Homo sapiens: one gene and its partners. The protein of the gene in region 3 interacts with the protein of the main gene of each other region in a pairwise test. Each region holds a gene or a part of one and is shown on either strand. Other genes may lie near its edges.

The links.
Region 1: the proteins of PDE4DIP (region 3) and AEN interact in binary tests that used the Homo sapiens proteins (3 or more experiments, as listed by UniProt).
Region 2: the proteins of PDE4DIP (region 3) and ZBTB4 interact in binary tests that used the Homo sapiens proteins (3 or more experiments, as listed by UniProt).
Region 4: the proteins of PDE4DIP (region 3) and MIF4GD interact in binary tests that used the Homo sapiens proteins (3 or more experiments, as listed by UniProt).

What each region holds. Positions count from the first base shown.
Region 1 is NC_000015.10:88,624,328-88,631,347, reverse strand, and holds part of AEN (apoptosis-enhancing nuclease), read right to left. Parts: intron 5,203-7,020; 5' UTR 5,139-5,202; coding exon 4,599-5,138; intron 2,123-4,598; coding exon 1,922-2,122; intron 1,294-1,921; coding exon of another isoform or gene 1,291-1,293; coding exon 1,054-1,290; 3' UTR 1-1,053. UniProt on the Homo sapiens protein: Exonuclease with activity against single- and double-stranded DNA and RNA. Mediates p53-induced apoptosis.
Region 2 is NC_000017.11:7,476,631-7,484,345, forward strand, and holds the start of ZBTB4 (zinc finger and BTB domain-containing protein 4), read right to left. Parts: upstream 3,002-7,715; 5' UTR 2,826-3,001; intron 2,803-2,825; exon of another isoform or gene 2,257-2,802; intron 1-2,256. Other genes in the region: SLC35G6 (solute carrier family 35 member G6), read left to right, coding at 4,887-4,895, 5,358-6,371. UniProt on the Homo sapiens protein: Transcriptional repressor with bimodal DNA-binding specificity. Represses transcription in a methyl-CpG-dependent manner.
Region 3 is NC_000001.11:148,840,446-148,847,440, reverse strand, and holds the start of PDE4DIP (myomegalin), read right to left. Parts: upstream 3,014-6,995; 5' UTR 2,667-3,013; coding exon 2,647-2,666; intron 1-2,646. UniProt on the Homo sapiens protein: Functions as an anchor sequestering components of the cAMP-dependent pathway to Golgi and/or centrosomes.
Region 4 is NC_000017.11:75,268,227-75,275,802, forward strand, and holds the start of MIF4GD (MIF4G domain-containing protein), read right to left. Parts: upstream 3,006-7,576; 5' UTR 2,918-3,005; exon of another isoform or gene 2,671-2,917; intron 2,497-2,670; exon of another isoform or gene 2,341-2,496; intron 2,020-2,340; 5' UTR 1,970-2,019; coding exon 1,888-1,969; intron 1,244-1,887; coding exon of another isoform or gene 1,121-1,243; intron 1-1,120. Other genes in the region: SLC25A19 (mitochondrial thiamine pyrophosphate carrier), read right to left, coding at 5,225-5,413. UniProt on the Homo sapiens protein: Functions in replication-dependent translation of histone mRNAs which differ from other eukaryotic mRNAs in that they do not end with a poly-A tail but a stem-loop. May participate in circularizing those mRNAs specifically enhancing their translation.

The DNA of each region.
Region 1 (7,020 bases), on a different chromosome or scaffold from region 3:
TGATTGTCAAAGAGCTGAGGGGGCATCAGACCAGGTTCGGGGGCACCAGACCAGGTTCAGGGCCACTGCGTAACTGCCAATGCCCTGCCCCAGCCCCAGGAGACACGCAGACTCCACTGCCCTAGACGAGTGGCCCTGCTGTTAATAAATAAATAAAGGTCAGGCACAATCCTACACAAAGGCCCCAGAATTCAAACCACTGTCTTGTTTCTCAGACTTTTGCTTAAGAGCCCAGTACTGGGTGGACTGGGGAAATCCCTGATTTGGGTCAAAATAAATATGCCAGTTCTCGTCCAAAGCTTACCTGCCTTCCCTCCTCCCTGAGCTGTGCCTGGGGCTTTCTGTTGCCAAGAAATGTTAAGGAGCCAACTCCCCACGAGAAGCCTGTGGGCTCTGCTATTCCACTGTAGCCTAGCAGGGAGCTGACAGGCCAGGCACGGAGTTCCTACAATGGCTGTAGCCAGAGTTCCAGGTCAGGGAGGTGGGGAAGAAATGCCTCCTTTAGGACTTAACTCCTCTTTAACTTCAGGACATGTTTATTCTGAACCCAAATGAGTGGAGGAAGAGGTAGGCAACAAAAGGAAGAGAACTTTACCCCCAAGTCATTGAGTTGGGGTAAGGGAGCTCCAGGATATTGACACCCCCACCCACCATCCCCAGAGAGGATGATATGATCCCTTTCATTAGCACAGCATGATGACTCAGGAGATCTGGGGGGTGGGGAAGGCCACGGCAACCTGGGCAGTCTGTTGGCACATTCCCTACTCCTGCTGGGCCCTAGAAGATGGTCCACCTGACATCTCCATGGAGTCTGTAAAGTGCCATTAGCAAAACCACAGGAGTCAGAAGAAAGAACCAACAGCCCTGGAGAGAGAGAGGGCTATGCTGTGTGCAGAGGGTGTCAAGGTAACAGATGACCCCTACTCCTCTGGCCCTGGGGCTGGCTCACTGCATCCTGCCCCACCCTGCCCAGGAAGGAGTGCCCGCTGCTCTCCTGGCCCCCACTTCCTACCGGCCACACCGGAAGCCCAGCCAGGGAGCCCCGCCCCCTTCTCAATTCCTTCTGTCCTGTGCCTCCCTGGCTCCTCCTCTGCTGCCGTGGGCCAGGTCATCGGGCCAGTACTGGTCCTCCATGTACTGTTCCATGTCTGTGCTGCTGTCAGGTTCTCTGTCCTCGGGGCAGGTCCAGAGGCTGCGGGCCTCCTGCTGTTCCCACTGCACCTCCACCAGCCGGTAGAGCTCCATGGCTGTCGTGGCATCTTCTACTGATGAGTGCCCGTGCTGGCCCACCTACTGACGAGAGCCAACACATCACTGCCTGCAGGCCTAGTGAGAGGCCTGTTACCCCAAGAAGCAAGGCCAGTTTCCCAGGGCTCTTTGTGCAGGCCCAAGAATACGTATGCTCAGAATGGAGGTTCACAGAAAAGGGATGGAACCTCAACTGTACACCATAAGCCATGCAGCTTCTCCAAGCCTGTTTTCCTCAAATATAAGGCATGCTAAAAATCTCTTGCTTCAAAGGCTTGCAGATCAGATGAATAATAAATGTGAAGCCCAACAGGAGCAAGAGGTACTGGCTCCTCCTGATCTAAGGCTCTATGTCTGCTAGTAGGGGATGGGAGACCATGCTTCAGGGATGCAAGAACCAAGAGTTAGGGAGGGGACAGATCTGGAAGAGATCGGCCTAGGAGAATGTGTTCTGGGAGAATCGCAGTACACACTGGGGAAGAAGGATCATGGAGAGAAACACCTGGAGCTGCGTGTACAGGAGGGAGACCCATTTAAGCAAGGTCCCTGGACCTGGACTAGGGAAGAGAATGACAAGGAGGCTGGAGACACAGCCCAAAGCCTTGTCTGTGGCTCAGGTGGCATGGAGGCCAGGCGGGCCTCCCTCCCTTCCAGCCACTCTCCCACCACGCACCTGGATCTTCTTGTGCAGCAGCTGCAGGGCCAGGTCCTTTAGAGAGACCCGGGCCCGGGTGTGGAGGCCGGGCTCGCTGAGGAAGTTTGGGACATAGGTCGTATCCCGGGTCTGGCTCCGAGGGTGGACATACTTGAGCGCCTGGAAGTCGTTGTGCAGCGCGTGCCCCACCACCACCTTGCCCTTCAGGAGCTTAAGGATCTGTGAGCAGAAAGAGGAGTCAGGGAGGTCACCCCACACCCCATCAGGTTGGCAGGAGACACGCCCTGAGAACCCCTGGCCAATAGATGCATGGATCCCTGTGGGGGGAGGCAGCACCGAGTGGGGAGATCACGAGCTCCACAGTCAACCATGCTGCCCCAAGTCTGAACCCAGACCCTTCTACTGTCTATACCCAGGGGCATACCTATGTCTTCTGCACCTGTCAAAGGGAAACACTGCCAGCAGCATTCCGTGGGGTGGCTCTAAGGACTAAACGAGGTCATGGATGGAAGTCTTCCTGTTACCAGATACAAGCAACTCTATTGCTGGTGTTGGCTCTCCTCTCAGCCTGGAAGACGTCACCAGGCCTCCCACTCCACCCAACTCTCCCCCACCGCACTGTAAGGTCTGTGAGTGCAGGGACCATGTTGGACTTCTTAGTGATGCTCCAAGGAAAGCGTCACATTTATTCTTTTTTTTTAATGCCTATCTTTTTCCTGTAGTAGAAAGCATTACATTTATTGATTATTTACTTATCACAGGAGGTGATCAATAAAGACCAGCTGGGTGAAGTCAACAGAACCGTGCCTGTCACTGGTAGACACACCATAGCAGCAGCTCTTATGAGCATTAAGGGCCATAATCCCTGTCTTCAGGACTCTGCCCCCTTGCCCTGCTGTGTACCAACTCCTCCTCATCCTCTTAACCTGCTCTCTTGCTCAGCTCTGGCTGCCTGCACAATGTGTACCTCCCTTCCCTGCTGGGTGGCCCTCCTCATACACCAGGGAGGCCACGCCCAGGGCCATGGGCCAGCAACCCCCTCTAGCCCTCTTAGCTGGGCTTGGGCTCTCCTTATCACCAGCTGCGGGCCTCCACAGCCTACCTCTGCTGGCAACATATGTTTATCCCCAAACCCAGCTTTCATGGCAGATGGATAAGATGCATTGAGACTTTATAGTAGGGACATGCCACCATGCTGGTCACTCACCACACTGCCCCTCCCCCCAAGTCAGCCATGAAGTGGAAAGAGATGAAGCACAACCCACAGTGGCTCGGAGTCTGGGCAGACAAAAAGTGGTCCTGCTCTTGGGACCACCACCAACCAGGTCAATGGAAGGGACCAAGGAGCTGGAGGGTTCACCACACACCTCCCCTCTTGTTGCTACTCTTACTGATTGGCCTGCTTGATACATAAAATAACCTCCGATCATTTCAAAGGAATGCTCGGGCCACAATGTTATGTGAAAAAGTAGGACACGAGATAGTGTACACCAGTATTTCCCAACCTTGCCTAATCCCAAGAATAACCCAGAAGTGTTAAAAAGTGGTTCTGTTACAAGGCTTGTTTAGAAAATGCAGATTTGTCTCAATGCAATTGATGTATGACACATTTTGAGAACAATGCAAATTTCACCTTTGCTTGTGCATAATTTCATCCTTGAGAAACACTGAATGAACGCAGAAAACTGCATCCAACTGAACTAAGCCAAGAGGGCATACACAATATGCACACAGCCCAAACATCTCCCAGCAACCCTAGTTCACCTGTGTGATGAGCCACACCCATCCACAGCTGGTGTCACACTTCCTGTCTGACTTCAAAGAACTCTCCTTCAACCACTTCACAGAAACTCAAGCTGCAACCTTTCTGACTCCTCTTTCCACAAGCAAGTTCAGGTCTTTTTCAAGGTAAAGTGCCATACTTATTGGTGTATTGTGCATTTCTTAACCATTTAAGATGTGTGGAATAAAAAAAAAAAAAAAAAGAAACAAGATGCGTAAAACTGGACTACCTTTTTATTAGGTTTCTATCTTATTTTTGGGGTGTCACTGATGGCCTTTTTAATACTGTTCCCTTTCTCCATTTCCCCTTAAGCCCTGTGGCTTTATGGTGCAAGTCTACACAGTGTGATGATTTTTTGGAACATGGGTCAGAGCCCTCCCCAAGCCTAATGGATCAGGAACTCTATGGAGGGAACTGGGGACAAGGATCCTAGATTGTTAAAAAGGACTTAGGTGTTTCTAAGGTCAAGCATGTTTGGGAATTCCTGGTGCATCAGTGTGGTCCCAACCACTAATTAATTTTTTCTAAGCACTAAGAAACTAACATAAGGAAATATGCCAAAACATCCATACCTGAACGTGATGCCACTGTGGGCTTTACAAATTTTATATCAATGCGTACAACTTTTATAACAGAAAGCAAACTCTAAAATGTAAGCTATTTATCACCTTACAGTTGGTGTAGCCTTTCTACATTGTCCTGTGCAACAGGCCAGCAATCCTTATCTGGAGGCAAGGTCAGGATTTTATTTTTATTTCCCCTGTTCTATGGAGAAGGAACCTACTGTTTGGAGCAGTTAGGTGACTTTCCCAAGGTTTCTTGCCCCCAGTGAAGCAAAGTGGTGATTCAAACCCAGGGTGGCTCTTTCCAGCCCACCACACCTCCCAAACAAGTCCCCATCCCTGCCCTTACCTCTTTCTGGGCCACCTGGAAGGGGACAGCCTTGCGCATGTGCTGCCGAGTGATGCCACTCCAGCGGGTACGGTAGTCAGCGATGGGCATCTCAGGCCTGATGTACTTGTCATAGAGGACATTGCCATGGTAGCTCACAATGGAACAGCGGGCCAGCTCGCTTACCCGCCCTCGGGGTCCCGTGCCCACCATCTCACAGTCGATAGCCACACACTTGCTGGGCAAGGGCCCTGAGGCTTTCCCGGGAGCAGGCCTTCTGCTGCATGGGGCACTGCCAGATCCAGCCCTCAGACACTGCTTCCCACTGCTGGCAGCTTCAGTTGCTGTCGCTGCCCCGAAAGGGGTGGGCAGTGGGGAGGACCCTGGTTCTGGAGGCATGCTCAGCAGCCCCTGCTCCTGCAGCAAGGCCTTCCGGGCCATGAACCGCTGGTGCTGTCGGCTCCTTCTCTTGTGCCTCTTCCGAAGCACATCCTTGGCATTTGGGATGGTGAGGGAAGGGCACAGGCACTGAGCAGACTCAGGGGCCTCCCGGGGTACCATTCCAGTCAGCTCACTGCTTGGGGCAAGGGAAGCCTGGGGAGTAATCTTCCAATGGGGCAGCAGCCTGAAGAGAGAACACACAGGCAGAGGGGCTGGGTGAGAGTGTGCCAGGCAGCCCACCCACCCTCCCTCCCTCCCTGCAGTGCACCACGGTGGGGATGCCCGAGAGCCCTGCACCGTAGCTCGTGGCTCCCAGATTGAGTTGAGGACCCATTTCACTAATAAAAGCATTCATACTGTAAACACAGGTGAATCACTGTTGTAAATACTACATGGAATCACTCAGTCTGCTCAATGACCTGAACAAAGTATTATCATCTTCATTTTACAGGTAAGAAACTGAGGCACAGAGGTGAAGAAACTTGCCCCATTAGTAAAAGCCAAAGGCTGGTAGGAACCCAGAATCCACACCCTCAACCTCAAACCATGGCTGAGTCCAATATTGTTAGCAGTGGACTTTTTTTCTGCTGTGATTTTTAGCTAAGAAGCATCAGACTTTGACAGAGGTATGGTTATAGGAAAATAAAGGTTATAGAAACTGTATAGCCTTTTTTAAGAAATACTTTTTTGAAATATGAAGGCACAGATCCTCAGCACAACCTGGAGAAAGAATTTCATAGGAAGCCCGCAGTAACTGAATAGTTGTATTTTTTTGTAATATGATAACCAACTGTAATTTATTTATTTAATTAATTTATTTATTTTGAGATAAGTTCTTGCTCTGTCACCCAGGCTGAAGTGCAGTGGCGTGATCACAGCTCACTGCAGGGCTCAAGTGATCCTCCCACCTCAGCCTCCTGGGTAGCTGGGACTACAGGTACACACAACCACACCTGGCTACTTTTTTTGTATTTTTAGTAGAGATGGGGTTTCATCATGTTGCCCTGCTGGTCTTAAACTGGGCTCAAGTGATCCGCCCACTTCGGCCTCCCAAAGTACTGGGATTATAAGTATGAGCCACCGTGTCCAGCCTTTAAGTGTAATTTCTTTACCTGACGTTGTAATTCATTAATCGCCACAGCATCTAGAAACATTTAAAAGTCCTGATCTGAAGTGCTTGCAGATTTCTGTGATGGGCTCCCACCCAGCGGACTTTAAGCCCTCGTCACTGAATGCTAGGATAAGAGGTGCTGTCGTTCATTGCTGCTACAGGAAATGTCTGATGTTCATGTGAGTTTGCAAAACCCAGCATCTTCCCAACAGCTGAGGCCATAACTTGGAAAGCCTGTCTCATTTGTTATGCCAAGTCAGTCAGTACATTTTTAACAGATCAAACAAACTAGGGCTTTGAAGTCAGGCAGAGCAGGGTTTAACTTGGCATTTTTTGAGGCGGAGTTTCGTTCTCGTTACCCAGGCTAGAGTGCAGTGCCGTGATCTCGGCTCACTGCAACCTCCGCCTCCCGGCTTCAAGCGATTCTCCTGCCTCAGCCTCCTGTGTAGCTGGATTACAGGCATGCACCACCACGCCTGGCTAATTTTTGTATTTTTAATAGAGGTGGCGTTTTGCCATGTTGGACAGGCTGGTCTCAAACTCCTGACCTCAGGTGATCCACCTGCCTTGGCCTCCGAAAGTGCTGGGATTACAGGCGTGGGCCACCATATTCGGCCTAACTCAGCTCTTTGTAAATGACCTAAACTGCTAAGTTTCAGTTTTCAGGCATGTAAAATGATCCTACCACCCCCTCTACTGTGTGAAGAGGAAACGACACAATGTATGCTGGGGTCTTCCTGTATTCTGAACAGTAGGGGCTCAATAACCACTGCTCCTTCTCCCAGAGAGGTTAGACTCTAGCCCGTGGTTGGCAGCCAGCTCTTCTCAGGCCAGAGCAGCCTCCGCCTGGACTCACTGCCCTTTCCCAAGCCACAGCCTCCCTTCCCACTC
Region 2 (7,715 bases), on a different chromosome or scaffold from region 3:
CTCCAAGGCCACCTCCTTCTTGGCCCTCCCTGATCCACAGGATGAGAACGATCATTCCTTCCTCTGACTCATCAACCTTTTGTGCTCCTATGGCCAGCATCCACCTTACACAGCAGCAGAGACTCAGGTTCTCATGCCCTCAGCTGGGGATCCCTGAGCATCCGGGTCTTCTGAAATGGACTGCTGCAAATGCTAAGTTCTGCAGCAACTGGGGAGAAGAGTGTTGGAGGGAGTTGCACAGAAAGGACCATCCACTGAATGTTCCAGAAGGCAGCAGAGTACAGTAGTTAAGAGCACAAGATCTTCAACCTGATTGCCCGGGTTCAAATACAGCTTCACCTCTTACTAGCTAAGTGACTTGGGGCAGATTACTTAACTTCTCTGGACCTCAGCTGCCTCACTTGAAAAAGGGAGGTAGAGTGCCTACTTCAGGGTGTTGTTCTGAGGACAGAGTGGCCACATATAAGTGCCCTGAGGACAGGCTGGTGCACGGTCAGTGCTAAGCAAGTGTGTGCTGCCATTATTATCAGCGAAGCCCCAAGAAGGGAATTCCCAGTCCTGGGGGAGGGCTGACAGGGGCTGGCATAGGCACAGCCCCCAGACTATAGCCACTTTCCGGGTCCGTTTCCCATGTGCTTTTGGAAGATACGCAGGGCAGACAATCAGCCCCATTCTGCAGATGAGGAACTGAGCTTCCTTCAGATCAAGTGCCAGTGAGGGAATGGTAAAGACGCCAGAGCTCCTCAGCCCTGGACCATGGCTCCTTTCTCTTCACCAGACCGTCACTGTGCACCTGTTGAGCAGGCTCCCACGGCAGCCACCCCTTCCCAGCCCCCCATGCCGGAGGGCCTGTCCGCAGCACCCTCCCTTCCCCCACGTACACACATCCTTCCAGTGGGGCCGGGCACAGTAGACAGTGGTGTGCAGGCTTGGAATGCACTTGCACACACACCCCTAGAAGGGCCCAGTCCCCAAAGGTGAGGAAAACCTGTTCTGAGGAATCTGCCTAGTGAGCGAATTCTGTTCTGAGGCCCTTCCACCGTCGCAGGAGTGGGGCCCAGTGTGCGTCAGAGATACCCACAAGGGGGGCAGAGAGAGGGAGAGGGTGAAGCAGGAGGAGGCTGAAAACTTCACGTTTCTTTTTTCCATTTTAGTGACAAGAGTCACACCCAGCCTTTACATAAACATGGCCAAGGAGCCTCTCTGTCTAAGCTTACTTCCCTTGTGGCCGCCCAGCCTCTCCTCCGGGTGACCCTGACACGCTGGGCAGGCTCATGAGGGGCAAACATACAGACCCTGCAAAGATTAGCTGGGCCATCTGACAACACCCATGCCTCCCGCCGGCCTCCATGCGCTACCCTGCATTTATCTCCCGCCTTCCTCATACCAAATCCCCTCCGCAGCCCCACCGCCACTTAAGCACACAGACGGCAGGCACGCACACACAGCCTGCTTGCGGCTGGCCTCTTGGGTCTGAGGCCCACACTGCCCTTGTCACGCCACCTCCCTCCCCACATGTGTTTTCTGACCAGTTTGCCTCCCAGCTCAGCAGCCCAGACAGGCTCCTACAAACAACGTCACAAAAGAATCCTGTGGAGAATGTTGCAAACACACAACCTTCCCCTCGCTTGGCTGCCCATGATCCCATAAACACAACTGGCGCATTCCACCTCGAGCCCCTCACACCAGTGCCAACTGACCCACAGGCCCCTGAGACATACCCCGGGGTTCCTCGCTCCTCTCATGATCTTTGGGATCTGAGTTCTAGACGCGCAGCCCCCATGCAACGCGCTCATCACAGACACGCAAACCCATCCATCGCCCTCTTCACCACTGGACCACACCTCAGCAGGGCCACAGAAATGGGACCCAGACGTGACGCCTTCTGACTCAAAGGCCCACAACCGCCCCCTCCAAAAGGGCACATACACTGCATCCTGGCACCCTCCGCAACACATACAGCATGCCAGCTCTGCAGAAAACAGTTCATAAACAGGTCATAGGTGCAGCACAAGACACACATGCGAGAAAACACATGCTGTAGAAAACATACAGCCCCACATCGAACAAACTCTGCACCCAGCATGCTGTGCCCTGCTCAGAATACCCATCTGTCACCCAAAGCCACAGGGCTCGTCTTGTAACTCTGCCCCACAACACTGGACACCCTTCCTGGCTTTCTATCTCCATGGCCCAGGGAGGGCCCTACCCAGACCCCTGGCTGCCAGCAAACGGTGGTGCCCAGGAGAGGTTTACCTTGCCCCACCACACAGCACAAGACACACGATCTCCAAGACTCACAGCCACAACCCTGCCCCGACGGCGCGGCGGTTCCGGGGCCCCAGCTCGCCCTGCGCACCCCGCACACCCCAACTCTGGGGCGCTCGGCGGCCCACCCCTCCCCCTCTCTGCCTGGCTCCTACGCCATCACCCTCCCAGCAGCTTGCAGCGCTTGCCCGGGCTCACACCCGCCCCACCCCACCCCCAATCTGCCCCACGGGGGGAGGGGGCCATTAGGCTGCAGAATTAACCCTTCAAAGAGGGAGTGAGCACCTCCCCTTCCACGGCCCCAGGCGATCGCGTCCCACGGCCGCCCCTCGCTCGGACGCCATACCAGGGCCCCCTTAGTCGCCCCCCAGCGTCGTGCGCGCCCGGGGGCGGGGCCAGGCTCAGCCCCCGACCCCTGCGCCCCCAGGTCAACCCCAAAGGAGAGCGGTCTGGGCGCGGGGCGCGGTCGGGGCTCCCGCAGCGCCGGGCAGCGGAGAGGGGGCCTGGCAGTTGGCTCCGGTCCGCCCTGGCCCTGCCCAGTTCGCCCCAGGGCCCACCTGACTGCGATGGCGCCGCGTCCGCCAGGCCCGGCTCATCACCGTGGCCGCCCCCGGCCGCTCCGGTTTTGCCCGCCTCCAGCTCCGGCTCCGGCTCCAGCTCCGGCCCTGGCCCCCCCAGCGCCTGGCCCCGGCCCGGCCCCGCTGCCGCCGCCGCCGCCGCCGCTGACATCATCGGCTCCCCCCGCCCCGGTCCTACCCCCACCCCCACCCCCGGAAACAGTCCCCCCCCAGCGCCGCCGCCGCCGCCGCCGAGAGGAGGCCGGCGCAGCGCAGCCGACACCGACACAAAGCTCCGAGCGCCCGACGGCCTTCCCCAGGACTGACCCCCGCGGCATGACACTGCGCCGCGCTGGGCCACCGGGCGGGTGGACACCGAGCGGGGCGCGGGCCGGGCTGCAGCATCCCGGCAGGGGCGCAAGACCACCGACCCCCAGGGAAAGGGCTCCCTCCGCCCTTCCTCCTGCACGCCCTTCACTCAGCGGTGCACACTGCCTGAAAGCATAACACACAGGCTCTCAGGGTGCAGACATGACATGGCAGACTCATAATCAGGCCCGGTGGGACTCACAGACCCAGGGTCGGCACACTCAAAGAGGGCCAGCCCTGGACACACACACACACCCTCTCCAGGAATGCGCAGGAAAGCTCAGCAGGCCGCGGAAAAAGAAGGCCCTGGCCCTGCATACGGGGCACACACGAACGACCACCAGCGCAAATGAACACATGAAGCTGGCTGGGTACTTTGTCCCCACCAGCAGATAGATCCACATCTGTATACTTGAACATAAATGCAGAGGCCTTGGTGTCGGCCTCTGGGGACAGCATCAACAAAACACCAGGTGGAAGCACACACAGAAAAAACACATTCCTGAAACTCCACAGGGACAATCCCAAGAACTCCTCCCTGGTGCTGGAAAATTAAAAACTAAGGAGATGGAGGAGCCAGGGTTCACAGCTCCTTGCCTTAAAACCTCTCTGAGGCTGGGCGCGGTGGCTCACGCCTGTAATCCCAGCACTTTGGGAGGCCGAGGTGGGCGGATCACGAGGTCAGGAGATCGAGACCATCCTGGCTAACACGGTGAAACCCTGTCTCTACTAAAAATACAAAAAAATTAGCCGGGCGTGGTGGCGGGCGCCTGTGGTCCCAGCTACTCGGGAGGCTGAGGCAGGAGAATGGCGTGAACCTGGGAGGCGGAGCTTGCAGTGAGCCGAGATCTCGCCACTGCACTCCAGCCTGGGCGACAGAGACAGACTCCGTCTCAAAAAAAAAACAACAACAAAAAAACCTCTCTGAAACCATGCAAGATATAAATAAACAAATTAATGTAAAGCCACAGAGCTAGCCATAAAAAGAATAAAAGAATCAGACAAACTTTGGAGTCATGGAGACATAAATAGAAAAGAAGCAGAGTTGGGCTGGGCACGGTGGCTCATGCCTGTAATTCCACCACTTTGGGAGGCGGGGGGTGGTGGGGTGGATCACTTGAGGTAAGGAGTTCAAGACCAGCATGGCCAACATGGAGAAACCCCATCTCTACGAAAAATAAAAAATTAGCGGGGTGTGGTGGCACATGCCTGTAATCCCAGGTACTTGGGAGGATGAGGTAGGAGAATTGCTTGAACCCAGGAGGTGGAGGTTGCGGTGAGCCGAGATTGCACGCACCACTGCACTCCAGCCTGGGCAAGAAGAGCAAAACTCCGTCCCAAAAAAAAAAAAAAAAATTAGCCAGGTGTAGTGGCACATTCTTGTAATCCCAGCTACTTGGGAGGCTGAGGCAGGAGAATCGCTTGAATCTGGGAGGTGGAGGTTGCAGTGAGATGAGATCACACCATTGCACTCCAGCCTGGATAACAAGAGTGGAAACTTCGTCGCAAACAAAAAAAGAAAGAAAGAAAGAAAAGAAGCAGAGTTGGACTCAGCGGGAAAATAGGCGTGCTACCACCTCAGGAGAGTTCCAGGGAAGAACCCCACCCCCACTCCAACCATGTCACAATGGCTGGAGCTCTGAGGGGCCCAGGCTCCCTGAGCCAGGAGGAGAGGAGAAAGTCCAAGGAAAGATGGTGAGTGTGGGGGCCAGGGGCCTAGTACTCCCTCCCTATAGCTCCTGGTTGCTCCATTTCCCCTCCTTTCCTAAAACTTAGCTGTCTCAGAGATACCCACAAATAGAATTCATAATGGTGTACCCAGATGTCTCTGGAACCTGTGGCATCATACAGATGCATAGCATCTGAGGCTTCCTCCCCTTCCTCAATCCGAGAGAGCATCCTGGGTCCTTTTTCTCCTCCCAGGAACAACTTACCCAGGGAAACGATGCTCCAGGACTGCTCACTCCTTGCTTCCTGCTCCAGGCCCACATTATAACATCTCACTCATCTTTTAGGCCCTTTCTAGCTCCGAAGAGTTCCTCAGCAAGATAGCCCAACACTGTACAGTCCCACAGGGTCCCAGACCCCATCCTGGCATCTGCCCTGCCCCAGGTCGCCTGGGCTGCGGCTGCTGTCTACCCTGAGCTCCTTTCTCCCTAACAGGCTGGCAGTCACCCCTACTTGAACCCGCCTGACTCCACACACCCATCGCCGCCCTCCGCTCCACCCAGCCTCCGCTGGCACCAGTGCTGCCAGCCCTCTGATGCCACCAATGGCCTGCTGGTGGCCCTGCTGGGTGGGGGCCTGCCTGCTGGCTTCGTGGGCCCCCTTTCTCATATGGCTTACCAGGCTTCCAACCTGCCCTCGCTGGAGCTGCTCATCTGTCGATGCCTCTTCCACCTCCCTATTGCCCTGCTACTTAAACTGCGTGGCGACCCCCTTCTGGGACCTCCTGACATCCGAGGCCGGGCCTACTTCTATGCCCTGCTCAACGTCCTCAGCATTGGATGTGCCTACAGTGCGGTTCAGGTGGTGCCCGCTGGCAACGCTGCCACTGTTCGCAAAGGTTCTTCCACCGTCTGCTCCGCCGTCCTCACCCTCTGCCTTGAGAGCCAGGGTCTCAGTGGCTACGACTGGTGTGGACTGTTGGGCAGCATCCTAGGACTAATCATCATTGTGGGACCTGGACTCTGGACACTACAGGAGGGGATCACGGGTGTCTACACCGCCCTGGGCTATGGGCAGGCTTTCGTGGGAGGACTGGCGCTGTCCCTGGGGCTTCTGGTCTATCGTTCTCTGCACTTTCCCTCCTGCCTCCCAACAGTGGCCTTCCTATCTGGCTTGGTGGGGCTGCTGGGCTCTGTGCCAGGCCTCTTTGTGCTGCAGCCCCCCGTGTTGCCCAGTGATCTCCCGAGTTGGAGTTGTGTGGGGGCAGTGGGGATCCTCGCCTTGGTCTCCTTCACATGTGTGAGCTATGCGGTCACCAAGGCCCACCCTGCCCTGGTGTGCGCTGTCCTGCATTCCGAGGTGGTGGTGGCCCTTATACTGCAGTATTATATGCTCCATGAGACTGTGGCACCTTCTGACATCGTGGGGGCAGGGGTTGTGCTGGGCAGCATTGCCATCATCACAGCCTGGAACCTCAGCTGTGAGAGGGAAGGGAAGGTGGAGGAGTGAGATAGAACTTGGGAGCCCGGGGGTTGGGAGGGACAGGGATAAATAGAGGCAAAGACTGAAGACAAACATGGGAGGAGAAGTGACTGGAAAAGAACTGGTGTGGGAGAGGGATACCTCTCAGAGTCAAGGGTGACTTGGGGACTTGGTGGAGAGGGACTACCTGGAAGACCTGGGGCCAGCCTGGGACCAAGGGATGTGGAGACCAGGCTGGGTCCTGGAATCAGGGCATAACTAAGGGGTAAAGTCTGAGGAGCAGATCCAAACGGCTGAGGCAGGGAGGCCGTGGGCCACGGGGAGGACTTCACTCAGCAGCAAAGAGAAGAGCATTGGGGCTGGAGTGTTCCGGCAAAGACAGAGCCAGCAGCTGCGGTGGGGGAGGGGAGCGTGCCTCCCCACCCCTCCCCTCACGGCAAAGGTTTCCTTTCCTCGTGCTTGTGCCCCCCCCTTGGGGTGGTGACGTGACATTGACATCAAACAAGGATTACTCTGAATGTGGCTTGCAGTGGTGTCGTCTCTGCTTTGGAGGGAGAGTGGAAAGTCCTACGACCGTTCTCATTGGAGAACCCCTTGGGATCCCCGCCCCCCATTTTATTCCTGAAATATTCTACAAAGTGGAGGATTTCCTAATGTTCAGATGCCTTGACCCCAAATCCCCCAGGACTTTCGTGGCCCGCCCCATGGCTAATCTGCTTTTCTCGGATTGTCGCGGTCCCGTGATCTCTCCCGGACAGTGGCCACCCTCCTTCCAGAGCAGGCCTCCCAGCTGAAGTCTCTTCGAGAGGCTCAGGCCATGGATCTAGGATCATGGCTCGGTACAGCGCGGCATTACAGGCCAGGAGATGCCCACCCGTCTCCGGGGGCCGTTTGACAAACATCGGCTACTTCCGGACAAGCCACTGGTCCTGCCATCTTGGTTTGTTCATGCATATTCAGCAAGAGAACTGCATATTCATGAGCAACCGCCCTTCCCCGGGAGGACCCGCCCCGCCCCGCCGCCATTACCGATTCGCAGAGCAGACCATTTTCCAGCTGGGGGGGGCTACGAATGAGAGGCTTTTGCTGAAGATGAAACCGTTGTCCAAACTAGAATGAAAGCGGCCCAATTTTACCCTCGAGTCTTCAAACCTTAAGCCTCAGTGCAAAAGGGAGCAGCGAGGAGAGGCGGTGGGATTAAAGAAAAAAATTCTTCTCTCCCTGTCACTTCAAAAGGTCGCCCAACCAGCGAGCGGGGGGTTTACCCACGACTCTGGCTCGCACCCCTTGCGGGCCTGCGCAGGCGGCCCCGTAGCGCAAGGGAGGGCGGGAAAGGAAGGGGCGGGGACGCGAGGGCGAATCTATAAGAAG
Region 3 (6,995 bases):
CAAAAGACCTGTACAGAAATGTTCATAGCAACACTGTTTATAATAGCTCCAAACTGGAAATTGCCCAAGTGCCTATTAAGAATAGAATGGACAAATAAATTTGATATATTTATACACTATAGAAGCCTATTTAAAAGCAAGAATAAATGGACTACAGTACCATATAACAGTATAGAACTCCAAAAGCAAAAGATTGAGTGAAAGGAGCCACGTACGAAAGAGTACATGGTGTATAATTTCATTTACATAAAGTTCAAAACTAGGCAAAATTATTCTATGGTGTTAAAAATTAGGATAATGATTATCCTTGAAGTCATCAGGAGGGCTTCAGGGATGCTGGTAATGTTCCCTTTCTCTATCTGAATGCCCATCCCATGAGTATACTCAGTTTGTCAAATTAATTGGACTGTAAATATATAATTTGCGATTTTTCCAAATCATTTCTGAATTTGTCTGAAATTGTTACATGTAAATATAAAATTTTTAAAACTTAATAAATAATACTTTTTTCTTCAAGTGTGAAAAACACTGGCAGAGAGCAAAAGGCCCTGATACACTCACTCCCATCACCATCAAGTGGTCATCTAGCCTTTGCCTGAGTAACTCCAGGGTCAACAATCTCTTTACTGCCCATACTGCCCAGGCAGCTAACTTGTTAGAAAGCTTTTTTTTAATTTTTTTTTGAGACGGAGTCTCGCTCTGTCGCCCAGGCTGGAGTGCAGTGGCGCGATCTCGGCTCACTGCAAGCTCCGCTTCCCGGGTTCACGCCATTCTCCTACCTCAGCCTCCCAAGTAGCTGGTACTACAGGCGCCCGCCACCACGCCCGGCTAATTTTTTTTGTGTTTTTAGTAGAGACGGGGCTTCACTGTGTTAGCCAGGATGGTCTCAATCTCCTGACCTCGTAATCCGCCCCCCTCAGCCTCCCAAAGTACTGCAATTACAGGCGTGAGCCACCTCGCCTGGTCTTTTTTTTTTTTTTTTTTTTTTTTTTTTTTGAGGCGGAGTTTCGCTTTTGTTGCCCAGGCTGGAGTGCAATGGCTTGATCTCGGCTCACCACAAACTTCTCCTCCCGGGTTCAAGCGATTCTCCTGCCTCAGCCTCCGGAGTAGCTGGGATTACAGGCACGTGCGACCACGCCCGGCTAATTTTGTATTTTAGTAGAGATGGGGTTTCTCCATGTTGGTCAGGCTGGTCTCGAACTCCCGACCTCAGGTGATCCGCCTGCCTCAGCCTCCCAAAGTGCTGGGATTACAGGCATGAGCCACTGCACCTGGCCAGAAAGCTTTTTCTTTACACTGAGCCATAACTCGCCTCCCAACAACTCGCTTGCATCGGTTGTTCTGTCCTCCTAAGAGATTCTAATGTGATTCAATCCCTCTACCACCAATAGCTCTTCGGAAATTTGAAGGAAGCTACCACATCCTCCCCACTCCCAGTCGTCATTTCTCCGGACTCAGGAGTCCCAGGTCCTTCCTTTGGCCATCCCTCAAGGCATGGCTTTGAGTTCCCTCCTGTCTCTTGATTGTACTTATTTTATCTAATGATGCCCAGAACTAAGCACAGCCCTCTCGGAGAGGCCCAAGAGGAGCAGAAAGGAGCCAAAAGTAAAATCATCACTTTTGATCTAGACAGAATCTAGACAGCCTACTTCTTCTGTCAACAAACCCTAAGCTTCAATTTGCTCCTTCTTTAATATTCACATTATACCATTCACTCCTGTTGAGCTTAGCAATCAACTAAAAGCACCCAAGTCTTTTGCATAAGCCCCAAATTTACCTTCTGTGTTTGTACCGTCTTCACTCTCTCAGGAGTCAGAGCGCTCATTTGGCCCCACCCCAATTCTCCAAAGCTAAATCCCACAGATGGAAGCGTATCTGTTATAGAGACACCGCTGGAATAGTCTCCCTACCCTCCCACCCACTAAAAAACAGAAACGAAGTCTTTGTCTCAATACATGGTCTCTTATCCTTACCCTTTCCTTGAATGGGGCTTCATTTTAAAGTGTGTCTGGGGGAAGGACTGGAAGAAAACGCAGTTTCACAGGCCATCTCCAAAATCTGACCTAAAAGCCAACTGTTGCCTGGCCTCAATAAAGCCTGAGCAGTGTGGTGCCCTGATCTCTTTCCTTCTCCATTCCTCCCCCAAGTGGGCTCCAACTGGAGGTTGTGGAGATGAGTGCTGCTGGGCTCTGCTCACTCAGTCCCTTTGCCTTTGTGTGAGTAGTGACAGATGAGGCTGAGAAGGAAAACGTGGCAGGGTGAGAATAAACCTGATATTGTTCAAAGCATCTGACATCAAACATATCTCTCAAGAAGACCTACTGGAATCCCTCTAGCCACACGAACAAGGAAACGACAGAGAACCATTTCTACAGAAAGTTCCAGGCGGCCTCCCTGGGTATTTTTAACATCAGGACTCGGTGGAGGGGAGAGTCATTAAGCAAGGGAAACCCCGTAAAACAGAACATGTGAAAATGACCAAGAGAGGTGGGCTGGGAACCAGGCAGGGCGAGGCTACAGAAAAGGGAAGCTGTCACGGGACCCTGGTGGTGAGGGGCGACCTCTCTCTCCCTAAGGGCGCTGGGGGAGGGGAGGGAGGAGGACCACCAAGTCTGGAGCGCGGCGAGAAGGAAACAGCCCACCTACCTCGTCCAGGTCTGCTCCATTTTCCAGGCTCTTTCCTTAGTCTCAGGACGCTCCTCACCCGGGAGGGGAAGCAGCCTGGGAAAATGAGAAGCCTTGCCCACGAATCTCCAGCGCAAAAGGCAGCAGCTTTTTCCTCCCCAGCTCCTTTCTGCGTCGGCGGCGAAGAGAGAGCTCTGCTCCCTGCTTTTTTAGAAAATGGATTTGACGTGGCCGAACCTGCGGCTAGCCGTGCGACCCGCACAAGGGAGGGACTGTTCTCAGTAGGAGGCTGGACTCAGAGCGGCGCGGCGCCCGGGGCTGTTTCGTGAGCTGGAGCCAGCGGCTGCCCGGGCCGCGGTGCGCGCACTCTCCAGGCTGAGACACGACTGGCTGGCACGAGTTGCTCGGCACCAGCTGAGCTGTCAACCGCGAGCGGAGGCGGGGCTCCCGACAACCAGTGTGCTGGGGCAGAATCGGCCCAGGTTACACGCCCCCTGAACCACCCTCGCGTCTCCCCGACCCCTCTCTCGCTGGCTCAGATGAATGATGACGGCAGAGGGCAGAGAGCTTAGAGGACGCGGTACCAAGCCCCGTCCCTCGCCCATCCCAACGAAGGTCTTAGAATACAATCAACCAACTACAGGAAGAATTTGTAGAGGAGGTTTTCTTGTGTGTCTGCATCGCCCCACCCACAGGTAACCCCAGAGCCAGAGATGGAGTCTAGGAAGGTTTAGGAGCAATCCCGGCTGAATGCAGATGTATACCCTACGTGGTCATGGAACACGATGTTGTCTTCCTAGAGATGTGACATGCCAGTTTCACCATTAATCCAGGGACAGGACCCTTCATCAGGAAGGGAAGCATCCCAACAAAACCTTACAGCCCTATTAGCTGCCTGTATCCCAGACATCTCCTGTTTTAGGGTATTCTACCTCCTCGTTTTTCAGTTTCGCCAGCAACTGGGCTCTACCAATAGCTTCAAGGAGGGAGAAGCTTCCTGACTCCCAGAACACTAGAAAAGCCTCAAGACAGTAGCCATCAGGACCTCGACACTCCCTTGTGACTGTTTTAAGATCATGGAAAAGGCCTCTTTGGAGATGGCATTGCCTCAGGCCCTGTACCATGTACTTATGTATCAAGATTTAAACAAGGCAGACATACTATAATTAGAGTGCTTGCCACCCTGAAGCTCCTTTTTAGCTTTCAAATAAGACCGTTTTATTAAATGACATAATCACTGTTATTATTAGCACTATCACTGACCTTTTTTTTTATCTGAAAAAGGCTTTATAGTGCCCACATGTGGCAATGTTAATTTCGTTGTACTTGTTTCAGAGATGATAAATTTGAGACCCCAAAAGGCCCAAAGTCTCTGCTAAGGTTCTGATACAGGCTGTGTTCTCCATTGGGTGGCCCCAGAGATATGTTCCCTGAATTTCTAAAGCTACGACCCACAAGACTTCTCCAGGATGAATTTATTCTTTCAGGCCTCCTAGGCATTTAACTCAGGAAGAACCTGGCATGCCTGGGTATTGGTGAGACTGTGGGGAGTCTGTGTTCTTGGGGGAACCTGTCATCTGTCTGTTATCTCTTGGATTGGTTCCCCTACATACTAGTACAAAGTAGGGGTGGGGAGGGGAGGATAACAAAACATTTGAAGGTTTAGCAGAACTGTCTAAAAAGCCCCTAGTCTAGACTCCTCCAACACTTGATTTATTGGTAGGACCACACTGCTCCAGAGCTCAAAATGTTACCAGGAAAAATTTCAAGGTCCAGTTTGATCTTAGACAAGGCTCACAGGCCACCTGTCTTGAAAAGAATATCCTGTTGCCTCTGATGGGGGGGAAGAAAAGGCAGGGAGAGTCAGATTCCCATCCTTCATACCAAAGTTGGGGCTATATTTAGCTTTGTCTCAAATCAAATTATGGGCTACCGAGTTGTGGAGAGGAACTCTGTCTACAGGCAGCTCACTGGATTCAAGAAATGATAGCACTAACTAGGTGAGCTGTGGGGTCTCAGAAGTGACGCTAGAAAATACGTTCATGTATTTTTAAAATAACTTTTTTCAAAAGTTTATAGCACATTCATTGTAAAAACATTTGAAAAATACAGAAAGTTATATAGATTACTCAGAATACCCAGGGATCTTCAATATTAAAAATGTGTTGCATTTTTTTCCCACTCTTTAAAAAATGCATCTTTTAATCCAAACACCAACTCTTTCTTACACACATGGGTATATTCTTGAGAAGAGAAATTTCCTTGTTGTTTTAAAAATTATACTTATTGTCAAAAGAACAATTTTTTTGCGTTAGATTTCAGAAGAAAAATATTCACCCATATAACCACTGCTACAGCACAAATGTTTAAATTTCTCCAAATTCCCTTTAGTCATTATCTATATATATTAAATATCTATTTACATAATTACGATTACAGCTTAGGTATATGTTTATATTCTCCTTCTTTCACTTAGTAAATATTTGTCCATGTTTTTAGGGAAAGTTCATAGTTATTATTCTAATGAGTGTACAATATTTTATAATATTAGTAGGACCATAGATTACTTAAAATATTCTACTATTGCATAGTTATGCTGTTTCTGATATTAGACTGTTATAAATAATGCCTTAATGAAGAGCTTTCTGCCTTTATCATTCTCCTTTTTTGAATTATGCTATGGTTGAATGTATGTATGCCTTCAAAATTCATACATTGGTACTTAACACCGAGTGTTATAGTACTACAGGGTGGGGCCTTTTAGGAATATGTCTTAGGAAGTGATAAGGCATGAACACTCCACTCTCATGAATGGGATTAGTGCTCTTAAAAAAGAGGTTGAAAGGATTGCTCTGGTCCCTTTTGTCCTCTGTCCCTCCAGCCATGTGAGGACACAGCATCTGTGGCAACAAGGAGCCATCTTGGGAGCAGAGAGCAAGCTCTTCCAGACACTGAATCTGCCAGCACCTTGATCTTGGTCCAGCCTTCAGAACTGTGAGAAATAAATTTCTATTATTTACAAATTACCCAGTCTAAGCTATTTTGCTATAGCAGCAGGAATGGACTAAAGGCGATTTTCCTGGGATAAAAGGACTTTCTAATTTTATTATCTTAGCCTCAAAAGCACTAGAAATTCTCCTTTTATTTTTTTTCTTATTTAATTTGTAAATAATTGGATAGTTATATTTTAGTTCTATATCTAGCTAGTATACTAATAATGTAACACCATCTCATTTTGCTTTACGTTTCTTAGAATACTAGCTAGTAAGGTCTTATTTCATATCCTTTCTTGGAAACCATATGTGTAGTAGCCAGTCTCATGAAATCCTTGTGTTGAGTCACTGTATTAGTCATCTTTTTGCTGAAACAATGCTGCTCAACAAAGAACTCCCCAATCTCAGTATTATACAACACACATCCATTTCTCCCTCAAGGATCTATAGTTTAGGTATGGATTGGTTTAAGTCTGTCATTTTCATGGCAGAGTGCAGGAGTGCAAGAGAGTTGGCAGAGACTCATGATGACTGGTCTCTGCTCAGAACTGGCACAGTCTCGCTTCTGCCATTTTCCGTTCACCAAAGTAAGTAACATGGCCAAGTCCAAAGTCATTGGTGCAGAAAAGTACAGTCTGCCCACAGAGTGCAGGAGGGGAGAGTAATATTTGTGGAACAATAATGCAATCCACCAGTCACTGTATGTGCTGCTTTCTTGCTTTTTGTTAAGCTTTTCTCCTTGTAGATACATGGTAACTTTATTCTTCCTCATCCCATTTTAACTTAGCTATGACTTTTGAACAGTGAAATGTAACTTGTTTCGTTGGCTGAAACGTGAGAGGAAGTCTCATGTGGTCACTTCTGGGAAGAACGCAGACATTTTTAAGAGCTAGTACATAATTGGCCCTTTTCAGTTTCCGCTGTTTTATTGATCCTTGAAGATCAATAAGATGAAGCTTTCATCAACCTAAGTCCCTGAGTTACTGTGATGGTCAGAGCCTTCCTGCTAACCCTAATTGAACATGTAGAATGAGCAAGAAATTCATTTTTGTTGTATTAAGTTACTGAGATTTGGAGATTATTTATTACTGGAGCATAATCTAGCCTATCCTAACACATTGCTTTTTATTTCCATTTTGCAACCAAGTATCGTTATGTGTGTGTCTGCTCTCAGTTTTCTGGCTTAGAACTCAAATAACCGGCCGGGCGCGGTGGCTCACGCCTGTAATCCCAGCACTTTGGGAGGCCGAGGCGGGCGGATCACGAGGTCAGCAGATCGAGACCATCCTGGCTAACACGGTGAAACCCCGTCTCTACTAAAAATACAAAAAATTAGCCGGGCGAGGTGGCGGGCGCCTATAGTCCCAACTACACGGG
Region 4 (7,576 bases), on a different chromosome or scaffold from region 3:
CTGCTTTATCACATTTGTGTCCACCCGCTTCTAAGAATTTGAGATATTTACAGTAGAGCACTCATATGCTTGAAGTGAAAGAGATCAGAAATCATACAGAGGACAGTGGCTCCAGTGGTGCAATTGGTTAGCGCATGGTACTTATAAGAAATCATGGCCGGGCGCAGTGGCTCATGCCTGTAATCCCAACGCTTTGGGAGACCGAGGTGGTTGGATCACCTGGGGTCAGGAGTTTGAGACCAGCCTGGCTAACATGGTGAAACCCCATCTCTACCAAAAATACAAAAATTAGCCAGGTGTGGTGGCTCGTGCGTCATCTCATGTCATCCAAGCTACTTGGGAGGCTAGGGCAGGAGAATCGCTTGGACCTGGGAGGCGGAGGTTGCAGTGAGCCGAGATCATGCTATTGCACTCCAGCCTGGGCGACAAAGCAAGACTCCGTCTCAAAAAAAAAAAAAAAAAGAAAAAAATAAAAGAAATCATACAGAGGGCCTGGTGTGGTGGCTCATGCCTGTAATCCCAGCACTTTGAGAGGCTGAGGCGGGTGGATCACCTGAGGTCAGGATCAGGAGGTCAAGACCAGCCTGGCCAACATGATGAAACCCCGTCTCTACAAAAATACAAAAAATAAGCTGGGCACGGTGGCGGGCCCCTGTAACCCCAGCTACTTGGGAGGCTGAGGCAGGAAAATTGCTTGAACCTGGGAGGCGGAGGTTGCAGTGAGCCAAGATCGTGCCATTGCACTCCAGCTTGGGCAAGAAGAGCGAAACTGTCTCAAAAAAAAAAAAGGGAAAAGAAACCGTACAGAGGACAGTAACCATACAAACAGCTTTAGCTGTCTTGTCTTCTGGTTGCCCAGTCAGAGAAAATGGGGAGGGTTATGTGGCTAGTAGGGACCAATCAAAGTAAGAATGTAGTTTCTCAGGAAACACATCTTTTCCTGGCACTAGGTTGAGGAAGGAATACTGACCAGGACATGCCTCCAACAGCAATTTCACAAGAAAAAGTGTTCTTATACTACACACATGCAAACCCCCAACAAGAGAGGGCCACATAGGGCCTCCCAACAGGCTCGGCTTGACACATGATGGGTGTTGCTAATTATTAGTTGAAGACAAACCTCTGTACTGCGTGTTACAGCGGGAAGGCATCAGGCGAGAGCAATTACTATAGCTCCTCTGGCAAACGGAATATTCTCCATCTTCTGTCTCAAAGCAGGCAACTGTGCATTCAAGAGACGGGGCTATGGCAGCACAGAAACCAGCAATTCAAATGTAAGCGCTTCAAGGGCAGGAGCCGTGTTCTTTTTTTTATGGTTAAACTTTTTTTTTTTTTTTTTTTTTTTTTTTTTTGAGACAGGGTCTCGCTCTGTAGCCAGGCTGGAGTGCAGTGGCAGGATCATGGCTCATGGCACCCTCACCCTCCCAGGCTCAATCAATCCTCCCACCTCAGCATCTTAAGTAGCTGGGACCACAGGTGCCTGCCACTATGCCCGGCTAATTTTTCTTTTCTTTCTTTTTTTTTTTTTTTTTGTAGAGATGGGGTTTACACCATGTTTCCGGGACTGGTCTTGAACTCCTGGACTCAAGCAATCTGCCCACCTTGGCTTTCCAAAGTGCTGGAACTACAGACATGAGCCACTGCGCCTAGCCCTATGGTTAAACTTTTAAAACAGTCTTTACAGTCTGAGAGGTGACTGTGATTCATACTCCAAAATAATGGCCTCAATGTAGCTTGTCTTCCAGTTCAAGAATTACGTTGCCGACTCCTATCGTCAGAGAATGAGGGGAGGGGTGGAGGCATTCACCAGGCTCAGCCTCTGGTGCTGCCCACAGGGGCCCTTCTCTGTAGCTCCTGACCCCAGCTCAGGAGGGGTCCCGTGCTCACCTTTGAGTGCTGTCTTCAGCAGCTGCTGGGTCTCTGCATCAAAGGACTGGATTTTATACTCCTCTCTACTGGGCTCCCCCATGACTAGCCAGCCCCGGTAGCTCTTGACTGGGCTGGGAATAAGGACAGCACCTGAGGAGAAGAGGCGAAGGGAGCGGCCTCAGGTGTGGAGCGCAGGGCGGGTTCCGTCCTGCAGGCCCTGGACGGGGCTGACGGCGCGCTCGGGACAGGGACTCCTGGGCGGTCCGTGGCGTGCGGTGGTTGGCTGAAGGCCCACCAGGCTTGGCTTCTGGTGGGGACTGGGCATCAGCCAGGCACCTGCTGCTCAGTTTAGAAATCCCTCGCTTGTGGGATTACACAAGAGCGAGAAGCTGAAGCAGGAAAGCGCCCACCCTCCAGTCCCAGCAGGAGGCAGGAGTAGACTGGGGCAGGGTGTGTGCGGGCGGACGTTACAGTTGCTTAAATAAACCGGCCTGACGTTGCTGGCCCAGGAAGATGCCGGGTGAGGGCCAGGCTGGGAACTCCAAGCGGTGCGACTCTGTCCCCAGCAGGTCTCCGAGCCCCTCTCCCCAACCCTCTCTTTCTGGCTTTCGCCGAGTCCTTCGGTCTCAACACCCGCCGCTGCATCCCCCGGATGGGGCCGGCCTGCGTGGGTGGGGACGCAGGCGCCCTGTCCGCCGCCCCTGCCGGGAGCAGCCTGAACTCCCCAGACCCGTGCCAGCTTCTCCCTGGGACAGGCTGGTCGGATCGGCTCCCGAGTGGCAGTAACCCGGCCCTACGCACTCGAGACTCCTAATTCCTGAGCTCCATTCTGGAGCCTTCCTCTTACTGGGGGGCAGGATGATGCGCCCCGGAGAGGTGGCTCCCGCCGGAGGCTCCCCTCTGGCCGTAGGAGGCGCCTTTAGGGTCTCCAGCCCTCGGCCGTTCCCCCCGCGCCCGGAACGCCCCTCCCGGAGGCACAGGGCGGGCTGCGGAGCCCACGGCCCAGGGTCCCGCGGGCGGGAGAGGCGGCGTGGGAGCCGGGACCCACCTGCCGGGCCGGTGGCGCGCGCGCGTGCCCGGGGCCGCTCGGCGCCTGGGAGCGCGCAACCAGCGTCCGGCGCTGCGGGGCCCGCCGTGAGCTCATCTCCTCGCGCGGCGCCGGGGAAGGGTCGGCTCGCCCGCGCCACCTGCCGGGCCCCCGGGGCACTGCCCTGGCCTCCAGGCCGCCCCGGAAGCCGCGCCGCCTGCGTGGGACCCTGCGACGCTGCCACCCAGCCGCAAGCGGAACTCGCTTGGCTCGTCACCCCTTCACCCGGTGCGCCTGGGCCGTGTCCGGGCCCACGCCGGACCCGCCGGCACCTCGATCTTGCGCGTGGCCCCGCACCCAGCCCTCCCCGGAGCTCAGGTGCACTGGGCCGGGAGACACCGCTGGGCTGCGCGGCGTGGGAAGAGCCTGCAGAGCGCGTGGTGGGGACCTGGTGGCAGGAGGAACAGCATCAGCCCTGGTCGCACCACTTTCCCCGCTCCCCCAACCCAGGTAGAGAAGGCAGGGGCTGCAGGGCCGGGGCCAGCCACAACCCTCTCCCGCTCCAAGGAGGACATGGGCGAAGCGAGTTTCAGGTCATAGGGGCAGCCCCGAGAAAGGGGCCCCATTGGCAACTCGCGGCCGTCGGTTGTTGCGAATGCCCCTGAAGTGGCGCGGACCCCACCGCCCGGCGTCTGCCCTGGGTGACAGGAGGGCACCTAGAAGTGGGGGAAGAACTGCCGCCGCTCCTGCCGCGCGACCGGGAGGAGCGCTGCCGGCGCTGCCCGCGTTCTCGCCTCCTTTTAAAAGAACCGCCAAAGTGGTCACCGAAAACGGAGGAGGAAGAGAACGCTCAGCTGCAGCAAAAGAAACCAATGGGCAGGAAAGATGAAGAGAAGAAACTTTAACGGAATTTCATAAAAAATGCATTCAGGCAGCTGCATCCTCGTGGCCCCCGCCGCAGCCTGGACCTTGGGAACCAGCAGCCCAGAGCCAGGAAGCCCCAGCATTCAGGGCCCAGACAGACCCCAAAATCCCAGACCAGAGGCAGGGAAGGATGGTGCGAGGAGGAGCCCAGGACCCACACGCCAGGGCCAGGGCCAGCGCCGGCTCCCAGTGGGTGCCTCTTTCCAAGGCTGGAGAGGGAGGCAGAATGGAGGGCTTCCCAGGTCGGAGCAACCCTACAGGCCGGGCAGATGGAGGGAAGGGTGGAGGTCATGTTCTGGAGACCTCCCCTCAGCCTGGAACTGGTTTCTCCTCTGCCTCTCCGCCTGTGGGTGTCCCTCTGCTCTGGTAACACCCCAGGCACCAGCTGTGCCCTCACCAGGCTACGTGCCCGCCCCTTCCTTCTGCCATCCCCATCAGTGGGCTGCTTCAGAGCCACGGCCCTTCTGGGGCTACAGGGGAGGATGCACCCGCAGCATGCTCTGCACTGAGGAGCAGGCAGTGGGCGCTGATGCCACCTGTCCTGCTGATAGCTCCTCACCCAGCAAGGCTGACCCAGCTCTGGGTGAAAGAGGAGTCAGTGAGGTAGACTGGGGAGAGGCTGCACCTTCACCCACGCCTGCCCACAGCATGGCCCATCCACTTCCTGCACGGGCGCTGGGATCTGCTTTCCATGGAGCCCCACGGCCATGACCAGCCCGGTCCTGGGAGAGGACAGCCTGGGTGGTGGTGTGTCTGCAGACACGAAGGTCTGGGCACGGGGCCCAGAAAGTGACTGGCTCAGCCTGGAGTCTCCCCCAGCACTAGAAGCAGAGCTGCCAAGGGCTGCCGCTATGGAGAACATGGGATTTGAGGAAGGCAGGAGTCCTTTCCCTCATACTTTGTGAGTAGGCAGATGTGCCAGGGGAGATGGAGTAAGATAAGGAATGTGTGTTTAGCTTTAATGTCTATTAAATAGGTTGGAAAAACAGGCCAAGTGTAGGGACCTGACTCCTGCAAAGGGCCTACCGCAGCCCTCTGCACTCAAGCAGCAGCCCCATCCAGACCAGGAGTGTGTTCTGTTCTCCTGGCAGGCAGGGCTGATAGGTGTAGGATGGCGTCTGTTTCCTTTGGAGTGTGGGCTGGTCAGAGGAGAAACAGCAACTTCCTGCTCCTTCTCACTGTGTCGTTGGCTCACCATAGACCACGTCCTGCATTCCCTCTGATTCTCTCATGGGGAGAGCCCTGGACCTTCTGGTGGTGTCCCAGCTGGGTGGGTTCAAGGCTGCTACCCCGCTTGGGGCAGCTGGCCTGCAGGGAAGGGCCAGACGGCACCTCTCAGTGGAGACTGAATCTTCCTTCCTTCAGGAGGCTGCCTCCAGGGAAGACCTGGGGTCCTTCCTGCACTCAGCGCTGGCTGGCTGTCCTGTTCATGCAGTGGAAGACATTACAGAAGAATTCATACGAGAAGAACATGAAGCCTGTGGAGAGGGCAGCCTTCAGCAAGCTGGGGGACAGGCCCTTGAAGAAGCCCAGGGCGCCTTCCTTTTGCAGCACCTGCTTGGCACAGTCCATGAGGCCCTTGTATCTCCGTACCTGGGGAGAGGAAAGGGATGAAAATATGGATGCCCGCTCTGCTCCCATCAACACAGCCCCTGGCACATCACAGATCTTAAGAAGTACTTGCTGGACAAAGAAATGAATGCAAAATAGCAAATTATTTTATTTTTTCGTTGAGGCAGAGTCTCACTCTGTTGCCCAGGCTGGAATGCAGTGGCACAATCTTGGCTCACTGCAGCCTCTGCCTCCCAGGTTCAAGTGATTCTCCTGCCTCAGCCTCCTGAGTAGCTGGGATTACAGGCACACAACACCACGCCTGGCTAATTTTTTGTATTTTTAGTAGAGATGCAGTTTCGCCATGTTGGCCAGGCTGGTCTTGAACTCCTGACCTCAGGTGATCCACCTGCTTCAGCCTCCCAATGTGCTGGGATTACAGGCATGGACAACCATGCCCAGCTCAAAATAGCAAATAAATTAATTTCATTCTTTCTACTGTAATTGGGTTAAGACTGAACAGATGACAGGCCTAGAAATCAGAAGCTGGACAGCGCTCCTTCCTGCCCAGGAAGAACGGCTGCCTGTGGCTCCAAAGGATCCAGCAATGGCTCCAGAACCTCTTCCCAGAGGCATCTCTGACCCTTCATCCCATCCCACCTGATCCCCCTTGGGCAGCAGATCTGAACCTGGCCCTCAGTAGCTCTCAGCCGGGCCTCCCTGCCTCCAGCCTCACCCTCTCCAGCTGACCTCACACACTGCTGCCAGACATTCATCCCCAGGCACAACCCTCCTCAAGCCTGGCTTCCCTCCAAAAGCTGCAGTAACTCCTAGTGACGACATCATGAGAAATCAAGTCCAAACCCCAAGATCTGCCGTTTAAGGCACTGCACCATTTGGCCTTGATTTCCCTCCCTGATCTGACCTCCACTGGTCCTCCCACGTGCCCTTCCCACCTCTGGCCAAACTGGATTACACTAGTCTTTGTTAGCAGTAAGGCCTCCCTCTGCCATCCTGGGCTCTCACCATCGGCTCCCTGTCCAAATTCAAACTGTCCCTTCATGCTGGGTGCAGTGGTGCATGCCTGCAGTCCCAGCTACTTGGGAGGCTGAGAGGGGAGGATCGCTTGAGCCCAGGAGTTCGAGACCAGCCCAGGCAACAGAGCGATATCCCATTTAAAAAAAGAAAGAAAGAAAAGAAAACAAACTCTCCCTTCAGGACAAGTTGGTAAGTGGAAAAGGGAGGTTACAAACCTTGTATACAGTGTATCCGTATTTTTGTTAAAATGTACATGTGTATTTATGAAAAGAAATAAAACTACACTGAAAGGTTCCATGTGGTTATCTGTGGTAGTGAAATTACAAGGGATTTTGGTCTTTTTTTTTTTTTTTTTTTTTTTTTTTTTTTTTGAGACAGAGTCTCACTCTGTCGCCCAAGATGGTGTGCAGTAGTGTGATCATAGCTCACTGCAGCCTCGAACTCCTGGGCTTAAGCAATTCTCCTGCCTCAGCCTCTCTAGTAGCTGGAACTACAGGCACACACCACCATGCCCAGCTAATTTTTTAATTTTTATTTTGTAGAGACGGGGTCTTGCTATGTTGACCAGGCTGGTTTCAAGCTCCTGGCCTCAACTGATTTTCCCATTTTGGCCTCCCAAAGTGCTGGGATCACAGGCGTGATCCACTGCAGCTGGCTTGGTCTTTCTTTCATCTATCTTAAATTTTCTAAAGTTTCCTACAAAGAAAATGCATTATAACTATAAACCCAGCTCTTTCTCTTCCCCCAAGGAAGGAATGCTCTCTCCCTACCTTGCCTCCCATTCCATGCCATCCCTCTCCTCTGACATTGTCAGGCATATTTTTTCACACCTCCGCATCTCAGGTTCCCAGGATACAGAGGGGAAAGGCCTGGAATTGCCCATCCTTAGCCTACCCCTAACCCTACCCACTGACCAAAAGAAAGGGAGTATGTAAAAATCTGAGCAACTGAGGAGTGACTACTGAGACTACAACATGACTTAGCACGGGGCTTCTCTTAATGGCCAACTCTCCTAGTGCACATAAAATACAACTTAGGCCCAGGTGTGGCGGCTCATGCCTGTAATCCCAGCACTTTGAGAGGCTGAGGCGGACGGATCAACTGAGGTCAGGAGTTCAAGACCACCTTGGCCAATGTGGTGAAACCCTGTCTCATATGGTGAAACCC